2 linked regions of the Homo sapiens genome follow. The protein of the gene in region 2 interacts with the protein of the main gene of each other region in a biochemical or structural test. Each region holds a gene or a part of one and is shown on either strand. Other genes may lie near its edges. The genes, in order: SLC31A1 and PRKAG2.

Region 1 (9,319 bases), on a different chromosome or scaffold from region 2:
TGGTCTCAAACTCCTGACCTCAGGTGATCCACACGCCTTAGCCTCCCAAAGTGCTGAGATTACCAGTGTAAGCCACCGTGCCTGGCCATCTCTGCTGTTCTTGATTTGGGAGCTTGCAGGGGTGTGCAAATGAATCTAACCCATTTAAATTTACCGACAGAGATGGCCTTTATCTATGTTGAATCAGGTGGTCAGTCATTTTTTTCAATTTGATTCCCATCTGTATCACATTTTCTTTGAAATGTTTTAAAGTTTCTGGCTTCTTTCTCCCTGTTTTCTGACTATAAATAATGCTTCTTCATATTCCTATGATAATTTCACTAGGATTTTGGGAAGGAAAAGAGATGAGTTCAAAACGCCATCTTGAAATGGAAATAATGATACATTATACTAGGTTTTTGTCCATCTTTTCTATGTTCCAATTTTGTAAGAGTAGTAGCAATTCTAAGCTATAACATAGAACCATGTATTCTGTGGTATTGCTAAAAACATAACGAAGGAACTGTTTTCAGGGCTACTTTCTAGAAAGTTTGTAAGCTTTTACAAGTTGCCCAAATAATAGGAAGAAGTCCAGTGAGGCACCTAGTTTCAACTACCCAGCAGCAATTTTCCCTGGGAATATGGCATTGAAGAAAACATTTGGAAAGGTAGGACTGCCTAAGTGAGCTGCATGTTAGACCATATAATTCTGTTATCTGTAACTTTACAGGAGTTATAGTCCACATGTGGGCCTGGCTATCGCCTATCCCAGAGTTTATCAGAACTCTTCCACAGAGATACTATGAGTACTTAACGTATGGCCCATAGACAAGTTTTTAAAATCTAAAATAAAAAAAAATCAACACTAATCAAACTCTATCTTCTAAATGTCCAATAAGCTAGAGTTCATATTCATCTAATATTCACTTTGATCTTGATGATTTCATACACATAAAATGGAATTCATGTGAATAAAAAGATACATGTGTATTTTGAATTATACATTCCAATGCTGTTCCTACCAGGTGTGCCTAACTCCACAGCTACCACTAATGCATAACTAAATAAATAATTTCCCCATTTTTTTTTTTTTTGAGACAAGATCATATTCTGTTGTCCCGGCTGGAGTGCAGTAGCATGATTACAGCTCACTGCGGCCTACACCTCCTGGGCTCAAGTGATCCTCCCACCTCAGCCTCCAGAGTAGCTGGGAACATAGGTACATACCATTATGCTCAGCTAATTTTAAAACTTTTTGTAGAGAAGGGGTCTCCCTATGTTGCCCAGGCTGGTCTTGAACTCCAGCCCTTAAGTGATTCTTCTGCCTCAGTCTCCCAAAATGCTCGGATTACAGGTGTAAGCCACCGTACCCGGCCCCCAATTTTTAAGCGCAACACAAAGAATGGCAGCAGGAGCCAGAAAGATAGGTGTGTGTGCGCATTTACTTAAACATAGGCAGACACAGACTCCTCTTCAAGATAATTTACTTGGTCTCTTGTCCTTTCCTGAACCAAATTAAGCATGCAAAGGGATGGCTTGATAGGTGTGTCAAGGCTGAGCAGGGAAAAGGAAGGATATGGCACTTGAGAGGGGAGCAAAGTGAGGTCAGATCACTTTGACATCTACCTCAATTCAACTCAACAAGTATTATGAAGTACCCTCTGCCCCAGAGGCTATAGGGAATTCAGAGATGGAAAGGATGGAGGCTCTGGCTTAAACTTGCTATTGAACAGGGAAAATTTCACAAATGGCTTATTGTACCTAGAAAGAGAATGAGGGAGGTGAGATGGGGAGAAAAGAAAAGTTAGTAGGTTATAGTCAAGAAAGCATGAGGGGCTGATACAATTCTGATCTGCTTTATGGTCCCTAGCTTCCCCAAAAGACTAGTGACTATAGTAAACAATGTTATTGTGGCTATTTCAAAATATCTAGAAGAGAGAATTCTGAATGTTCTTACCATAAAGAAATGATAAATGTTTGAGGTGATGTATACGCTAAACACCATCGTTTGATCATTATGCAATTTATATACGTATTAAAATATCACACTGTACCCCATAAATATGTACAATTATTATGTATTAATTAAAAACAAAACAGGCAGGGTACAGTGGCTCATGCCTATAATCCCAGAACTTTGGGAGGCTGAGGTGGAAGGATCTCTTGAGTCCAGGAGTTCAAGACCAGCCCGGGCAACATAGTGAGGCCTTGTCTCCTCAAAAAATCAAGAAAAGTAGCCAGGCGTGGAGATGCATGCCTGTAGTCTCAGCTATAGGCTGAGGCCATAGGATCTACTTTTGTACTACTTTGGTAGGCTGAGGCAGGAGGATAGCCTGAGCCAGGGAGGTTGAGGCTGCAGTGAGCTGAGATCGCGCCACCGCACTCCAGCCTGGGCGACAGACCAAGACTCTGTCTCTCAAACAAACGAACAAACAAACAAATCCCCAAAAGATTAGTAATTGTTATGGTATCATACACTTTGTAAAGTTATCACACACCTCATAACCATCCAAAAATTTGGGAAGACAGTAAAACACAGACAGAGGCAGATATTTGTTAGGCTCTCTTTGTTTCATCTTTCCATCTTCACTCCCTACATAAATTGTAATAAAGAGCAAATCTTCTGAATCCTCTACTTGGTAAATGCTAGTAAACATAGTTGGGAGACAGTCTCCTTTTGTTCTGAGTTTATAATATTCACCTTGCAAATAGCTTGAATAGTATTATACTGAAAAGCAATAGAAAAATCTACAAGACCATGATGCAGGTGACTTTAGTGAAGTCTGCAATTCAACATAATTTTGGAGAGATTACCTATTCTTGGCTCTTACTTAAGACTTAGTTCTGAATAGTAAGAGATAAAAATTAAGATATTACCAAGAAAATGATACTTTTTCTTTTCCACTAATCATTTTCAGTTAAAGTCTCATAGAAGATCAAAACTAGAACAGTCATCAGTCTGCCCACATTCTTTAACACAGTAATCCCACTTCTAAATATTCATTCTACAGATAAACTGGCACATATGTGAAATGTGTATGTACAAAGTTACTTATAACAGGAGTGTTTGTAATAGCAAAATATTAAAAATACAACCTAAATGTTCATTGATAGGGCACTGATTAAATGAGTTATCATATTTTCATACAATGGAATACTTAGCAGAATAAGAATGAGAACGATCATATATATTGATATAGAATGATCTGTAAGACGTATTATGAAATGAAATAAAAGCAGAATATACTGTATGCTATAATTTGTAAAAAACTTAAAAAGGAAACAGAGTATGTTCATGTTATTTTTATACACCTATACTATCTGCAGGGGAGTTGGGGGGAAACAACAAAGTTGTTGGTTGAGCCTGGGAGGCAAAATAGGACCGTGGTCCCTAAGGAGAGCTGGTCAGAAGTGGGTAGGAGTAAATGAAATACTTTTCACTGAATATCCTTGTGTACTTTTTGAATTACAAACCATATGAATATATTTCCTATTTAAAAAATTAAATTATCAGTCAGGCGCAGTGGATCACGCCTATAATCCCAGCACTTTGGGAGGCCATGGCGGGCGGATCACCTGAGGTCAGGAGTTCAAGACCAGCCTGACCAACATGGAGAAACGCCATCTCTACTAAAAATATAAAATCAGCCGGTCGTGGTGGCACATGCCTGTAATCCCAGATACTAGGGAGGCTAAGGCAGGAGAATCACTTGAACCCAGGAGGCAGAGGTTGCAATGAGCCGAGATCACACTATTGCACTTCAGCCTGGGCAACAAGAGCGAAACTCCAACTCAAAAGAAAAAAAAAAGTATCATCAAATCCAACTCCTTTATTTTACAGATGTGGAAACTGAGGCTTATGTTATTAAATGATGACACTAACATTCTTTAGTTAGGTGAATCCATAACATCTGCTTCTGATAGAAGGCTCCATAACACTAGACTAACCGCTTTCTCCAGCCCCATTTCTCCGGATGGCTTGCTGGGAAGCAGCTAAGCAGGATGGGTTTCTGAGCTTTACATATCCTGTTCTGGTGGCAAATAACATAGAAGCTCCTATTTCTCTTGCCCACTCCCACCCTTCTGTACAAAGAAGATCAAGTGTACAACTACATTCTTCCAAAGGCCTTTACAAAAGCTTTTATTTGCCTGGTTCTAATAGGACAACTCAAATTTGATATGTCAAACAAACAAACTGAAAAGGTCTTTTAGTTATGTAATGATAACAGGGCCTAAGTCCAATGGGGAGTGGATCTCCCAGCTACTTTACTCCATTTCTGTGATACCTTTTGTTGTTGGGTAAGCCACATCCTGGAATAATGTAATCACATGATGCACCCTTTCATGCTCCTCTTACAGGATCCTTTTGTAGCCTTGACGCACTTCCAGTCCGCTAACTGTGCTTTAGTATGATTTATGTGACAATTTCAGTGTTTTCTAGATAGTATCTTAGAGTGGAGAAAGCATGCAGCACGAGGCATCAAAGGCTCTGAGCTCTGGACCCACATTTGCCATATACTAGCCATGTGACATTAGGCAAATCACCAAAATTTGCAAAATTTGCAAAACAGATATTAAAATACCTACGCTGCCAATCTCATAGTATTGTAAGGGTCAAATAAAATATGTTAAATACTTTCCAATTTTAAGGTACAGTAAATATGAAATATAATAGCTTGCTTGCTCATTAGATGACAAAATTAATCTCTGAAAGGAACTAAGTCACACATAAGGCTCACTTTCATGTTTCTTGAAGTATACAGCCTTTCACAGTTTGATTTAAACAAAACTAGCTAGTCAGACAAATATACATTGGCAAAGCATTGCTTTAACTGCTTTATTGTTATAATCAAATGTAGACAATGGTCCTCCTTGTCTAAACTTTGCTTTAGTTATATTACATAGCATTTAAACTGTTTGGATAATAATGTTGTTGGTTTGCCTATGAGTAATATTGGAAATTAATATGGCATAAGACAGAAACTAGAAAACATTTGAACTGTTCCCTTTTTTTTATTCAGTAGGAAAATGCAATTAAATATGTTACACAAGATAAAAGGAACTTGAATGATTTAATGAAAATGCAGTACAAGAATGCAAATGAGGCTGGACATGGTGGCTCATGCCTGTAATCCCAGCACTCTAAGAGGCCAAGGTGGGCAGACTGCTTAAGCTCAGGAGTTTGAGACCAGCCTGGGCAACATGGCAAAGCCCCGACTCTATCAAAAATACAAAAAATTAGCTGGGCGTGGTGGTGCATGCCTGTAGTCCCGGCTACTCGAAAGGCTGAGATGGGAAGATTGCTTGAGCCTGGGAGACAGAGGTTGCAGTGAGCTGAGATTGTGCTCCTGCACTCCAGCCTGGGCAACAAAGCAAGATCCTGTTTCAAGAAAAAATAAAAGAAAAAAGAAAAAAATTGTTCAATATCTCAGATAGAGGCTGTATGGTGTGGCAGTAAAAGTACTGGGCTAGGAACTGAAAGAGGTTCTACATCTGCATTCTAGATCTGGCTCTTAGGTCTCATTTGCTATGCAATTTCAAGGAACTCAGACTATTCTTTCACTATTTATTGCATACCTATCGAATGAAGGTACCATGATGAAACTCTAACCATAAGAAACCCATTCTGGTGAAAGAGGGACACATGTAAATAATTTAAAAATAATGTAAAATGTACTAAGGTATAGATTATGCATAGGGGTTGTGTGAGAACTCATAAAAAGCCATCAGAAAAGGTAGGAGAGAGGATGCGGGTGTATGAGTTACACCATTTCCCTTTCATTTCATAAATTAAATGACTACATTCTAGATGCTGTAAACTGCTTCAAAATTATATAAACACTCATCATAGTTCTACAATAACTCTTCTATCTAGGGAAATATGTCACCTGTTGCTAGAATTTTGCTCTCTTTATATGTTCCCTCCAAATCATTTCTCATATTTACTTTTGAGATTCAGGCTTCCATCTTACCATGCTGTATTTCATAATGTCCTAAGCCTACAAAAGCAGGTTGTATACAAAAGCCTAGGGCCATTGTGTAAAGGAAAAGAGGTAGGGTGGACCCTTCTCAACCCTTTCCTTCTCTGCAGGGCTTTGCATTCCTAAGGATGGGCCCCTCCTCTGCTTGGGGATGTTACCTAAATCATAAAATGATATTACTCAAAGCAATGGAACTTCAAAAGCATTTCCTTCCCAGGCCCTACTATAAGATTTCTTTTGGCATAAACTGTTCATTGTAATGTATTAAGTATCAGACTTTTGATGACTTGTTATACTTAAGTCACAAAACTACAGAAAACTTTTAAGTTTTTAAAATGGATTTAAGAGCTGCATGTGGGAGTACAGGCATCAGGAACCCCCTACCCCTTCCCTCCCTTTTCCCCAGTCAGGCCTGCCCTGTCCACTTTAAAATGCAGTTATTTGGGTGATGCCCTGTTACTAACTTAACTGACAACTGCTAGTTGAAATCAACTTGTCACTGTAAACACTTTGCTTTCTTTATTTCTTTTTTTTTTTTTTTGAGATGGAGTCTCACTCTGTCGCCCAGGTTGGCGCACAGTGGCGTGACCTCAGCTCACTGCAACCTCCGCCTCTCCGGAGCTCAAGCAATTCTCGTGCCTCCGTCTCCTGAGTAGCTGGGACTACAGGTGCCCGCCACCATGCCTGACTAATTTTTGTATTTTCAGCAGACACGGGGTTTCACCATGTTGGCCAGGCTGGTCTCGAACTCCTGACCTCAGGTGATCTGCCTGAGCTGGGATTACAGGCGGGAGCCACCACACCTGGCCGAACACTTTGCTTTTCTAGTGATTATTATATCATCTTTCTCTCTTGTAGCACTTCTGGTGGGAAAGGTGCAAAAAGGAATTAACAGTAGAGATGAGTCTCTGATTCCTAAGTCCTTCTCTACCAAGACTTCCAAGTTGGACAAAAGAGGTAGAGAAAGACTTAGGAATCAAAGACTCTTATGAGTATGGTATCTACTTTCAAAACAGTCATTTCATTTTATTCACATTTAGTATGGAAACTTTATTTTTCTCAATTCAAAATTGAGATTATAATCCAAAGGAAAGCTGAATTGAAAATTTTAACAGATTAATACCAGTGCCCCAAGTGGTGTTTACCATGCCTTCACAACAACCTCATGTTCTAGGGGCCATTAGAAAATGAAGTGGCTACTGACATGGAATGGAGCTAGGGAAATGTAACTTTTTACTTCATACACTCCTAAGCCATTTGAACTTTTTTACATCAATCATGCCATTTAGAATAAAAAATTCCACTTCCTACCAATCTAAGTACAAACTTGTCACCTTGACCTTCAAGGTATTTGACAAATATGGTCCTGGATTCCTTTTCAATTTTAATCCATTACTTTCTTCTGTGAACTGTTGCCTTATACTCTTAGCAAACTATCCCACAGAACTCTCTTATCCAATTTAACTGACATCACACCATTAGGCTATTCTCCAATGTGATGGGAACAACACTTCTGGTTCCCCCTCTGTGAAGTGTGCTTATCAATGGTGACAGTGTGTTTATTCACAAACCTATTTATGCCAGTTGTGCTTATTACTGAAAGTACGTAAATACTATGTAAAGCAATGAAGTATAAATGAGAAGAGAAAAATGACAGCAGCAATTAACACTGAGTACTTACTACCTGCCAGGCACTGTTCTAAATGCTTTACATGAATTAACTCCTATAATATTCACAAGAAACCTAGAAATGGATACTACCATTATGCCTGTTTTACAAAGGCAAAAACTGAGTAACTTGTCTATGGCCTATACAACTAATAAGTGGCAAAGCAATTTGGCTCCAGAGCTCAAGTACTTAACTACTGTACTACATAGACTCTCTAGTAGTTATTTCTAAAACACCACACTGAATGCTTTCGAAAGACCAGATAAAAGTGAGCACACAAGGCCGGGTGCGTTGGCCCACGCCTCTAATCCTAGCACTTTGGGAGGCCAAGGCGGGTGGATCACCTGAGGTCGGGAGTTCCAGACCAGCCTGACCAACATGGAGAAACCCCGTCTCTACTAAAAATACAAAATTAGCCGGGCATGGTGGCACATGCCTGTAATCCCAGCTACTCGGGAGGGTGAGGCTGGAGAATCGCTTGAACCCGGGAGGTGGAGGTTGTGGTGAGCCGAGATTGTGCCATTGCATTCAAGCCTGGGCAACAAGAGCGAAACTCTGTCTCAAAAAAAAAAAAAAAAGTGAGCATACAGATAACACATAAACTTGCTGTTAGGTGTGGGAGACAACAGAAAAGTCTGGAAGGACATTTCATAAACACCTAGAAAGATTCTGCAGTGAGACTGCTTTGCAAGTGACTTTAAGTATTCATTCCATGTTAAAAATACCATAGATAACGTAGGCCAGGGGCTAGCAAGCTCTTTCTATAAAGGGCCAAAAGTAAACATTTTAGATGTTGCAGGCCATGTGGTTTCTGTTGCAATCACAAATATTCAATTCTGCCTTGGAGGGTAAGAGGAGTCATAGACAATACATAAACAAATGAGAAAGGCTGTGTTCTAATAAAGCTTTACTTATAAAAACAGGCAACAGGGTCCTACACTCCAAGAAAAGGCTGAGGCCTTATGTTAAAAGAATGGCAAAAGAATGTTTATGTGTTCGTTAAAATGTTATGCATATAACTATTATCTGTATGATTCCCTGCTTTAACTTACTTCTTCAGTTAACCAACTAATGGCCCTAAGTCTGCTTTCAGTGACTGAGTGAACGGAATGTTATAGATCCCCTAGAACCTGCATTTAATTCATATTCCTATCATTATGCCTGATATAACTTGGTTATAACTTTAAACTACTAATTTTAAAATGCATGCATCATTACAGATTAGTATGGGTATACTCGTATATAAAGACTGTCATCTCTGTTGCAAAATTGCTGATAATTTGAAAATAATTATTAAAATTGCTGCTTCCCTGAGGGAGTAAGGGGAGTGGAGGGTGGAGAAAAAAAATTGCTGCTTCCTGGCCAATCTTCTGGGGGTTGACAATATATTTTATGAGTATTCTAAAAGTTGTATACTTAAGCAAAACAAATAAACAAAAATGCTTACTTTAAACTTGAGATCAAGGTTGTGCCTTACTTACCTTTGTATCCCCAGCAGTTACTCAGTAGAAGTCCAGGTCTAATCCACTCATTTTACAGTGCTTAGGGAGCCTGGCCCAAACTCAGAGTGAGTTATAAGGGCTGGGACAGGAATTCAGATTTCCTGATTCCTAGTCCAGTATTACCAATCTGAAGATACACGAATTTAGGAAGACAGTGGCTTTCTTTTTTTTTTTTTTTAGGTGCACCC
Region 2 (9,319 bases):
GACCGTCCAGCCTCATCCCCTACCCCAGGGAGGCCTTGGCTGCTCGTGGGGCATCTGGGCCATAGCCAAGCAGAGATATCAAAAACCTGACAAGACACAACAGAGACTTTTCTCAGCAGGTTGGGCTAGAATGGTTGTGAACCTTACACTGTCTTTTCTACATTAAGGATAATAAGACTAATAACAATACTAATATTTCACATATTACTTTAGAGATAAAGAGAGACGGCTCATATAAAAGCACACGTCTGGCATATAACAAGTGCTTCAGCAATATTAGCTCAATCTGTTGAAAACCATGCCACCCCAGATGGTATCTGATACAATCAAGAATATTGATCGGTCATCAGCACCATGAATGCAACTCCCCATCAAGCGTATCTAGGTTGCATGGAGGAAGAAGGCTCTCTGGGGTGCTTATTACAACATATGCTATAGATGAGGATGGGGCCCAGGTGATGTATGCTTCAAGCCCACCACCCCATGGCTGCTGGCATGGCTGAGGTGGTGAGCAGGGTGGAGCTGAGTAAATGGTTTCCACATTAGCCCAATAGGCAAATGGCTGTGTGGAGCCTGCCTGCCTGCCCGTCTTCTGGAAGTTGAGCAGGTGACAGAGCTGTCCTCCCACCCCCACCCCTCGCACACACCTCTGCACCCCTGGCCCCAGGAGGCTAAGTCTTGGTGGCCACCCAGGAGGGGAGAGCAGGCAAAGAGGAAGTGCTCTGGACAGAGGGAGCAGGCCTGGGTCCCAGAGCTGCCACACCAGCCTCTGTCACGTTACGTTGGTTTTCTCACAGCCCCTCCACACTAGAACTTCCAGCAGTGGGAGGAGGGGACGCAAGGAAAGACCCAGACCTTGGAAGGGAGTGTCAAAGTGCTGTGGGCAGTGGGACGCTGGGACCCCTTCCTGGGGCCTTGGCCACCTCTCCAGGCCATGCCATGGAGCCCCTCAGTGCAAGCCCCTGCCCTACAGCTCTATCGGACGGAGGCTGTGGCTGCGCTGTGCTTTGAGGGCAGGGCCCTGTTGGATTAGGTTCCTGGGCTGTGATAATGCGGCACCACATACTGGGGGCTTTAAAACAGAATGGATTCTCTCATTGCTCTAGAGGCCAGAGGTCTGAAATCAAGGTGCTGTGAGAGCCACACGCCCTCCGAAACCTCCGGGAGGATCCTTCCTTGCCTCTTCCACCCTTCAGCGGCCCATATTCCGAGGCTCGTGGCAGCAGCTCTGCAATCTCTGCCTCCGCCCTCACAGGCCTTCTTGCCTGTGCCTCTGGATGCAACTTCCCTCTTCTTAGAAGGACTCCAGGCATAGTGGATGAGGGCCGGTCCTAATGGCCTCATCCTAATCTATATGTTAATCACATCTGCAAAAACCCCATCTCAAAGAAGGTCCCATTCACAGGTATGGGGTGCAGAGGGTGTGGGACTTCGACCTTTTTTTTGGAGAATCCAATTCCATCGCACTGTTCATCTTTGTGTCCTCGACACCCAGCCCAGTCCCTGGAAAGCACACAGAAACGAGTTGACTGGTTTCTGGTCCCAGCACTAACCCTGCGTAAACATAGTTCTTAGCAATGGCTCTCTATTTCTTTATTCACAAGTGGAGAATTTGCATCCTATTTTCTCAAATTCTCCCCTCACCCTGTTGCATCCTTCTTCTTCCCCTCCCCAGCACAGTGGAGGTCACTGCAGGGCCACCCCCAGCAATGAACTCCCCTGGAAGAAGGCCAGCAGAGCTGCAGGGCACCCCCCTCCAGGACCAGGCCTTTGGCTCATGGAAAAGACGCTGGGAGCCTGGGGTTACGGAGCAAACTGGTCTTTGTCGTGCATTCATCAGCAGCTTCACTGCCAGGTCAGAGTATATCAAAACACAGAGGCCCTGGCAGACGCCCCAAAGCCTGGTGATAGCCGATTGGTCCGTGACCAGCCATGGGTTGGCAGAGAGGGCTTCCTGTCAACAGGAAGTAAAGGACAGGGATTAAATTATTTTCAAAGTAGGTAGTGGAAGAAAGAGATGAGTGAGATTCCAATTAACCATTCCAAGGCAGGGCTAAAATACAGTTCCACCAAATCACCTTCTTCTACTGGGGAAGCTCAGCTCGTTAATAGCTAACCCCTTCCTCTGGTCTGGGGGCATAAGCCATGCAATGAGTAACAGTGGGGGCTTCTAAGAACTCCGTATGGTTAAGCCCGAAGGACGCAGCTGAACTCTCAGGTGGCCCCTCTGCTCATCTCAGAGCGAGTCACGGTTAAAGAACCAAGCAAAGTCACCACTCTGTTTCAACGTCACAGCTCAGCTGCCCATCGGCCTTTGTTTGTTGCGCATTTTAAACGACGTTGACAGAACTGTGGGGTTATCAGGATGGGCTGGTTCACCGTCCTGAAAGGACGGCAGACAGCTGGTGCTTCATCGGTGATCACGTTCATTGGTCCCATTTTGGCCGAAGGGAGGGCGGAGGGAGGAGAACGGGTGAGCCACATTCTCACTCGGCTCCTGTCAGTGTCTGTGGCTCTACTCGGTAACCTTAGCAGCCCCCATAAATGTAAAAAGGTGCCTAGAAACAGAAAGACACTGGCCATGAGCTGAATACACCAAAATCAGCTCTTATAGGAAAACAGGGAGAGCAAAAGAAAATAAACAGCCAAGAAACAGGAATATTTAAGAGCACATGTATTTGCCTGAAGGTTTTAGAAGATACAAACTGATTTACAAATTACGTAAGCGAAGTCTGAGTAGATGAAGAGGCGTTGGCAAATAAAAAGTGCTTCCAAATGATTTCTTTCGCCAGTCTAGTGTTCAGCACAGTCCAAATTGCAAACCCTGAGTGCAAACTAGCAATATTGTTCTGAGAGGTTTTATTGGGGGGGGCAGTTCAAAGAAAAGAGGCAGGAAAAGACACTAGCAATGCACTGAGACTCCTAACAAGTTTGTGACATGTGAAAAGATGCAATATCGATTGAACCCACCAACTCTGCTGGCTGCTGCTTCTGTTTATGTTAATTCAGTACTCGAGCTGGGAAATCATGATCCAGGATTTAACTCTTTGCATTCATCAGTAGGCTGCTCCTCTGCAGTATGTAGAGCCTCGTTTATATAAGAATCTTGGAACCCTCCACAAAGAGGTACCAGGACCAAGCGCGAATAGGGCAGCGGGGGCTAGATGAGGGCAGAGATGCATATTTCACCTCCACTGTAATTAACCCTGTCATCTACCATGTAATGATGAACAGGCTTTTTCTCAGCTGGGCATTTGTGAAGTAGGGATAAGAGGACGAGGCAGCTCCAAGGTGACTCCCGCAAGGCACTGAGCATGTGACTCTGCAGGCCCATGGGTTTGTGCAGGCTCCGCACTATTCCCCCATGTGAGCTGCTCTGTGGGTGTCCCTGCGCCCTCTGTGTGGTAGAGTCTTTGAGGAAGTGATCACGCATCACTGTCTAGCTGCCCGTTCCCTCCAGGACCAGCACTGGGCCGTGCTCAAGCGGCATTGGGCCAATGTGCCGTGCCCCACTGAGGACGACCCTCGCTGATCAGCCCTCTCACACCCAGCGTGCTGCAGAGCGGCAACCAAGCTTCATCAAAAACCCTGGAGCCACAGGCCAGTCTGAGGACCCCATCACCAAGAAGCTTGACTACTGAAGGTTCCCATAGCATACTCTGGGCCCTATTGGAGCTTACGGCAGGGCATCTAAGATGCATGAAGCCACTGAAGGGCTGAGTCAAGAAAGCTTGCAGCGTGGCCTAACGGGCTGGCCCACACAGGCAGCTCTGGCTACAGGCTGGTTTGGGCATTCATCTTTATTTGGAAGCCAAATGTTGAATTGCCTTTGTTGAATAGTCAAAAGTCAAGGATATCTCTTCTCAATGACAGCTGAAAAGGTGCAGATGATAGATAGATAGATAGATAGATAGATAGATAGATAGATAGATAGGCAGGCAGGCAGGCAGGCAGGCAGGCAGGCAGGCAGGCAGGCAGACAGAGGAATAACTCATGGGGGCAGAAGAAATGGAACAGTATTACACCAGGGAAGCTATTAATAGTACCCAGTTGTTTTTAAGCCCCAGTAGGTACAAGAATCACCGGAGAACTTAAGAAAAATGCAAACTCATGGGTCCCACCCTCAGGCATTCTGATTCAGTAAGTCTGGGCTACGAAGCAGAATTTTATATTCTAAACAAACACTGGGAGCTTCTACATAAGCTAGTCCATGAACCACACTTTGTTAAACATTGCCCTAAACCCTAATCCAGCAAATCTTGCTCAGGATGGTACAAACTGGCCAAGGTCAAAGCTGACACGTCCACTGTGCCACACAGCATCCCCCTTCCCTTTGCGGAGGCTTCCATCCGGAGCGTTTCAGTGGTGTGAGGGGCACAAAGCACTGTCACGGTTCGATCCTCCAGCCCCGGGGCAGGACGGGGCTCCCCTTCCCACCCTCATCCTGGAGTTCCCAAACTGGCTCATTCCAGCCGGATAGAGGCTATGGGGCAGGAGCTGGGTGCAAAGGTCCCAGGCCATCACCAGCTCGGAGGGTGCGTGGCCTTCTCGCAGCGCGGGGCTTCCCTTGAGGCCACGCGGCGGGGGGAGGCACCGCTGGCAACAGGCCCGCCCAAGCCCAGCCCCATCTCTGCAAACGTTGTGACTGCCCAGCTCCCTGGCTCTACTTTTAGTTTGTCTCCAGCGACTGTGCAGGCTTTCTGGAGCACCTCTCCCCAGAGGGCCAGCGACATGTACATTCTGACAGAAATGCCCCACTCAGCAGCAACCATCTGAACTCCTCCAGCCTGCCTCAGTGTCCCCAAAGACTTCTGCCTTGGGTCCATCTCTCTGACGTCTTCCCTCTCCCTGGGTCTCCAGCTCTGTCATTGGCTTGAAACAGTTCCAGAGACACACGACATGGCAGCCAGCCTTGATTAAAGCATGTCTATGGGGTCTATGAACTTTAGCACTAATAGGGAAGCTGCTTTTTCTTAGACCGACATAAGGGAGAAAGAGCACGCTTGCTACCAAAGTCTCGGCAGAACACCACGCACAGCTACGCTTCCAGTGAGTTACTTCCTAAAACCATTCCCATCACCTTCATAATCAGCCATGCCTTACAAGAGGCATGGAGGCTCAGAGCAGGGAGCCAAGGCGGGATGCCAACAGGCCAGGACTCTGACCTCTACGGCCCTTTGCTACTTTGAAAGGCCAGCATGGCCTCAGGATAGAATGTGCCGTCAGTCCTTCCCCTTCCTCTCCATTGCATCCTCCCCCTCCTCCTCCAAGACCCTGGAGCTGTGCCCATAAAGGTGACCCAAAATGCCCAAGAAAGGCTGAAGCCAAGCAAGGCGACACCTTCGTTAGGTCCAAGGGCCACGTTCCCTTCCCCAGTACACAGCCATCAACCGAATTCAATTGATAAATTACTTAGTAGTTCTAGGTCTCCACCACCGTCCACTACCCACTGGCCCTAGGCTGTCCCCTAAAATGGATTCTTCCTTCCTGGTGTCCCAAAGCCTAGATGGGCTGTTGACAGGAAGCGGGCAGTGGGGACATTCAAAATCATCAGAGCCCGAGAGAGGAGGTTTGCAACAATTGCCTCCAACACCCTAGGCCACGGTTCTGTTTATGATATGGGCTGGAGGCTGAGGTCCCCAAAACGACTCAATCCAATTCAATGAAGAGACAAGCTGCTTGGGCACTAGGGGTCCGAGGAGGCCACCAAATGACCCCAGTCACAGGCCAGCCAGGGCCACAGTGTCTTTCAAGAGTTATTACTCCTCAGAATCCAAGATGTCCTTGGCAGTGGCAGTCCCTGCACACCACAGTCCTCTGAGGCTGGGGTGAGGAAGCAAATGTGATTCCCCATGGACGTGCTGCCCTCTGCTGAGACACACCCGGGCTATGACCAGACTCATCATTTCCCCCAAGAACCGGCCCCTTATCCCAAATACCTCCACATCAGTTCCTGCCACCTCAACCCCTTGCCATCCACTAGGCTGGCCTTCTCACGTCCCACGTCTGCCCTTCTGCATTCTCTCATCACAGCTGCAGTTCAGGCCCTCGGACCCTTACCCTGGGGGGGGGCTTTTGCCAAAGTACTTGAGTTGGTTTCCTTGACACCAGCCCGTTTCCCATCACTCCACTCTGTACACTTTTCCAGGCTGATTCCCATGGAATGCTGTTTTCTTTACCTTTAATGGCTTCTTAGTTCAGGTCCCCCCAGAAAAGACACTCAGACAGGAACTTAGGTTCAGGAGTTTATCCCAGGGAGTGCAGACAAGGGAATGGGGAAACTGAGGCAGGAACTGGCCAGAAGGGCCAGTAAGGTGCATTAACGAGTGGGTTACACTGTGGATCCCCACCCTGCTAGGGATCCCCTGAGGCATCCTGCAGAACCCAGGTCAGAACTTCCCACTGAGCAGCAGGGCGGCTGGGCCATTGGCCACCAACTGGACCCCTCCTGGGTTGAGGGTTGCCCCTCAGGGCATAATCCCAGCACTTCCAGGGGTTCCTGCACTAGGCTGAGCAAGCTGCCAGGGTCTGAGAGGATTCCTTCAGGTGGGGAGGGAGACACGAGTAAGAGGCAGTCCACCAAGGCTGCAGGTGAGGGTGGGCTGGGCCCCAGGCACCAGGAGGAGGCTATCCACAGCGTCCACCGCAGCTTCTTCACGCCTTCAGGAGGGGGTCCTCACGCCTTAGGCCTGGTCTTCAAGGCAGCATTGCCAGATCAAATACAGGACGCCCCCATTAATCTGGGATTTCACATCAACAATGGATACTTTTTAGTATTTCCCAAATATTGTATGGCGCATACCTATGCTAAAACATGATTCATTGTCTACCTGAAATCTAGATTCAACTAGGCATCTTGTATTTTTAGTTACTACAGCTGGCAACCCTATGTCCAGGTCCTTCCTGATCCAGTCTCAAAGCATTTCCTATGACTCTAGCTCTCAAACCCTTTCGCCAGGAGGCGTGGCTCTTCACCTGGAAGCAGCCATCCCCTCCCGCCCGATTCTGTGGGGTGCTCCCACTGGTTCCTTAGTGGGAGTATCACCCCCACTTCTACGTGACTCCTGCCTGCCATCTCTGGGTGTAAAGTCTCTCTAAACACATCAGGCCACTGTCATCGCTCCTTCTGCCTCTAGAAACAGGTGTGGTCTGCACTGGCCATCGTATGACCCTGGATCATTTGCTAGCCTTTGTCTGAAAGCCTCATTTTCCCAGCGAGGTTATAACTGCCACCTAGCCTGGCACAATGATCCATAGGTAATGACCATTAGGCAGATGAGGGGACCTCCCTGGTACCCAAAGCAACTGCAAGCCCTGTGAGGACTTGGGCAGATCTTCCCCAGATCTCACCCTAACCAGAGCCTGGGCACGTGGTCACCCTCAGCCACTGTGGAATAACTGAATGAATACTACTTTCGCGGTGGGCTGGCTCATGCCAAGAACGTTATGAAAAGCTGCCAAAGTCACCACTGGCAGCAAGAAGGGTGGTCCGAGGACCCCAACTATAACATGGTTTTTCAACGTTCACGGCCTGGCCTCACAGTCCTTTTTCTGGTTCTGGATTTTGTCTCACACTATCGCTGGCACCACCCCACGGGCACGCCCACACATCACTCACACCCTGCATTTGGAACCAGCCTCAGCATGTGGCTGCCACACAAAATGGCCCAACCACTGGACAATGGCATGTTCTTGTTTCTCTCTATATATTTTTTTAAAAAACTAGGTGTCTGATGTATATGTATATGTATATGATGTATATGTATATGTATATGATGTATATGTATAAGTATATGTATATGATGTATATGTATATGATGTATATGTATGTATATGTATATGTATATGATGTATATGTATATGTATATGATGTATATGTATATGATGTATATGTATATGTATATGATGTATATGTATATATGTATATGTATATGATGTATATGTATATGATGTATATGTATATGTATATGTATATGATGTATATGTATATGTATATGATGTATATGTATATGATGTATATGTATATGTATATGATGTATATGTATATGTATATGATATATATGTATATGTATATGATGTATATGTATATGTATATGATGTATATGTATATGATGTATATGTATATGTATATGATGTATATGTATATGTATATGATGTATATGTATATGATGTATATGTATATGTATATGATGTATATGTATATGTATATGATGTATATGTATATGTATATGATGTATATGTATATGTATATGATGTATATGTATATGATGTATATGTATATGATGTATATGTATATGTATATGATGTATATGTATATGTATATGTATATGTATAAGCCATACATTTATAGGACACTTTACACTTGTCAAGAGTTTTCCCGGGATGGGTGTGATGGCTCACGCCTGTAATCCCAGCACTTTGAGAGGTCAAGGTGGGCGGGTCACTCGAGCCCAGCTCATGTGGACCAGCTTTGGGCAACATGGTAAAACCTCATGTCTACAAAAAAAATAAATAAATTAGATGGGTGTGGTGGCACATGCCTGTAGTCCCAGTTACTCAGGAGGCTGAGGTGGGAGGATCACTTGAGCCTGGGGAGGTTGAGGCTGCAGTGAGCCATGATTGCACCACTGCATTCCCACCTGGGGAGCAGAGTGACACCCTGACTCAAAACAAAAAAAACAATAAAAAAGAGTTTTCCCATGAATTACTTTATTTCAATATCCGTATAAAGCAGGAAAAATGGGTATTATTTCCTGCATTTGACAAATGGGAGAAACAGTAGTTACACGGTTAGCTCAAGTGATCACTGTTTAAGAGGTTTGTGGCAGCAACATCTAACTTTTAACTCACGAACATGGTTTTAAATGTCTTACATGAGAGATGTAAACAAGAATGTTTCATTTTCAAATAGAACACTTATTCCTGCATAATCGAGTCACCACCGTGGGGGCCACACAGCAGCCAGGGGTCCAAGTTTCCAGCCCCAGAGCTTTCCAGCCAGGGAGGGCTGGCCCAGGGCCCCTGTGGGGCTACTTGGCATCAGGTGTCTGGAGACCCGCCCCTGGACTCCACCCTCTTCACCCAAGCGTTAGGCACGTGTGGGCCGGAGTTTACACAGGAGGACCTTAGCGGGGCGTCTAAAAGAAGGGTGGCTCAGCAAACACGGGGCAGTGCGCCCTGGGATTCACAGTGGGAAGTGAGTGGCCTGCCTCGGCCATGCCAGCTGCGCCTGACCCTGTCGGGAAGGATTAGCTTTAATGAGGGGTCCGGACAGCCCATTCACTGCGCACTCCCACCCTGCCCCGGGAGAGCAAAATAA

Evidence for each region.
Region 1: of the proteins of PRKAG2 (region 2) and SLC31A1, one has a biochemical effect on the other in vitro, tested with the Homo sapiens proteins (one study listed by BioGRID).

The regions. Positions count from the first base shown.
Region 1 is NC_000009.12:113,223,318-113,232,636, reverse strand, and holds part of SLC31A1 (high affinity copper uptake protein 1), read right to left. Parts: intron 1-9,319.
Region 2 is NC_000007.14:151,866,223-151,875,541, forward strand, and holds part of PRKAG2 (5'-AMP-activated protein kinase subunit gamma-2), read right to left. Parts: intron 1-9,319. UniProt on the Homo sapiens protein: AMP/ATP-binding subunit of AMP-activated protein kinase (AMPK), an energy sensor protein kinase that plays a key role in regulating cellular energy metabolism.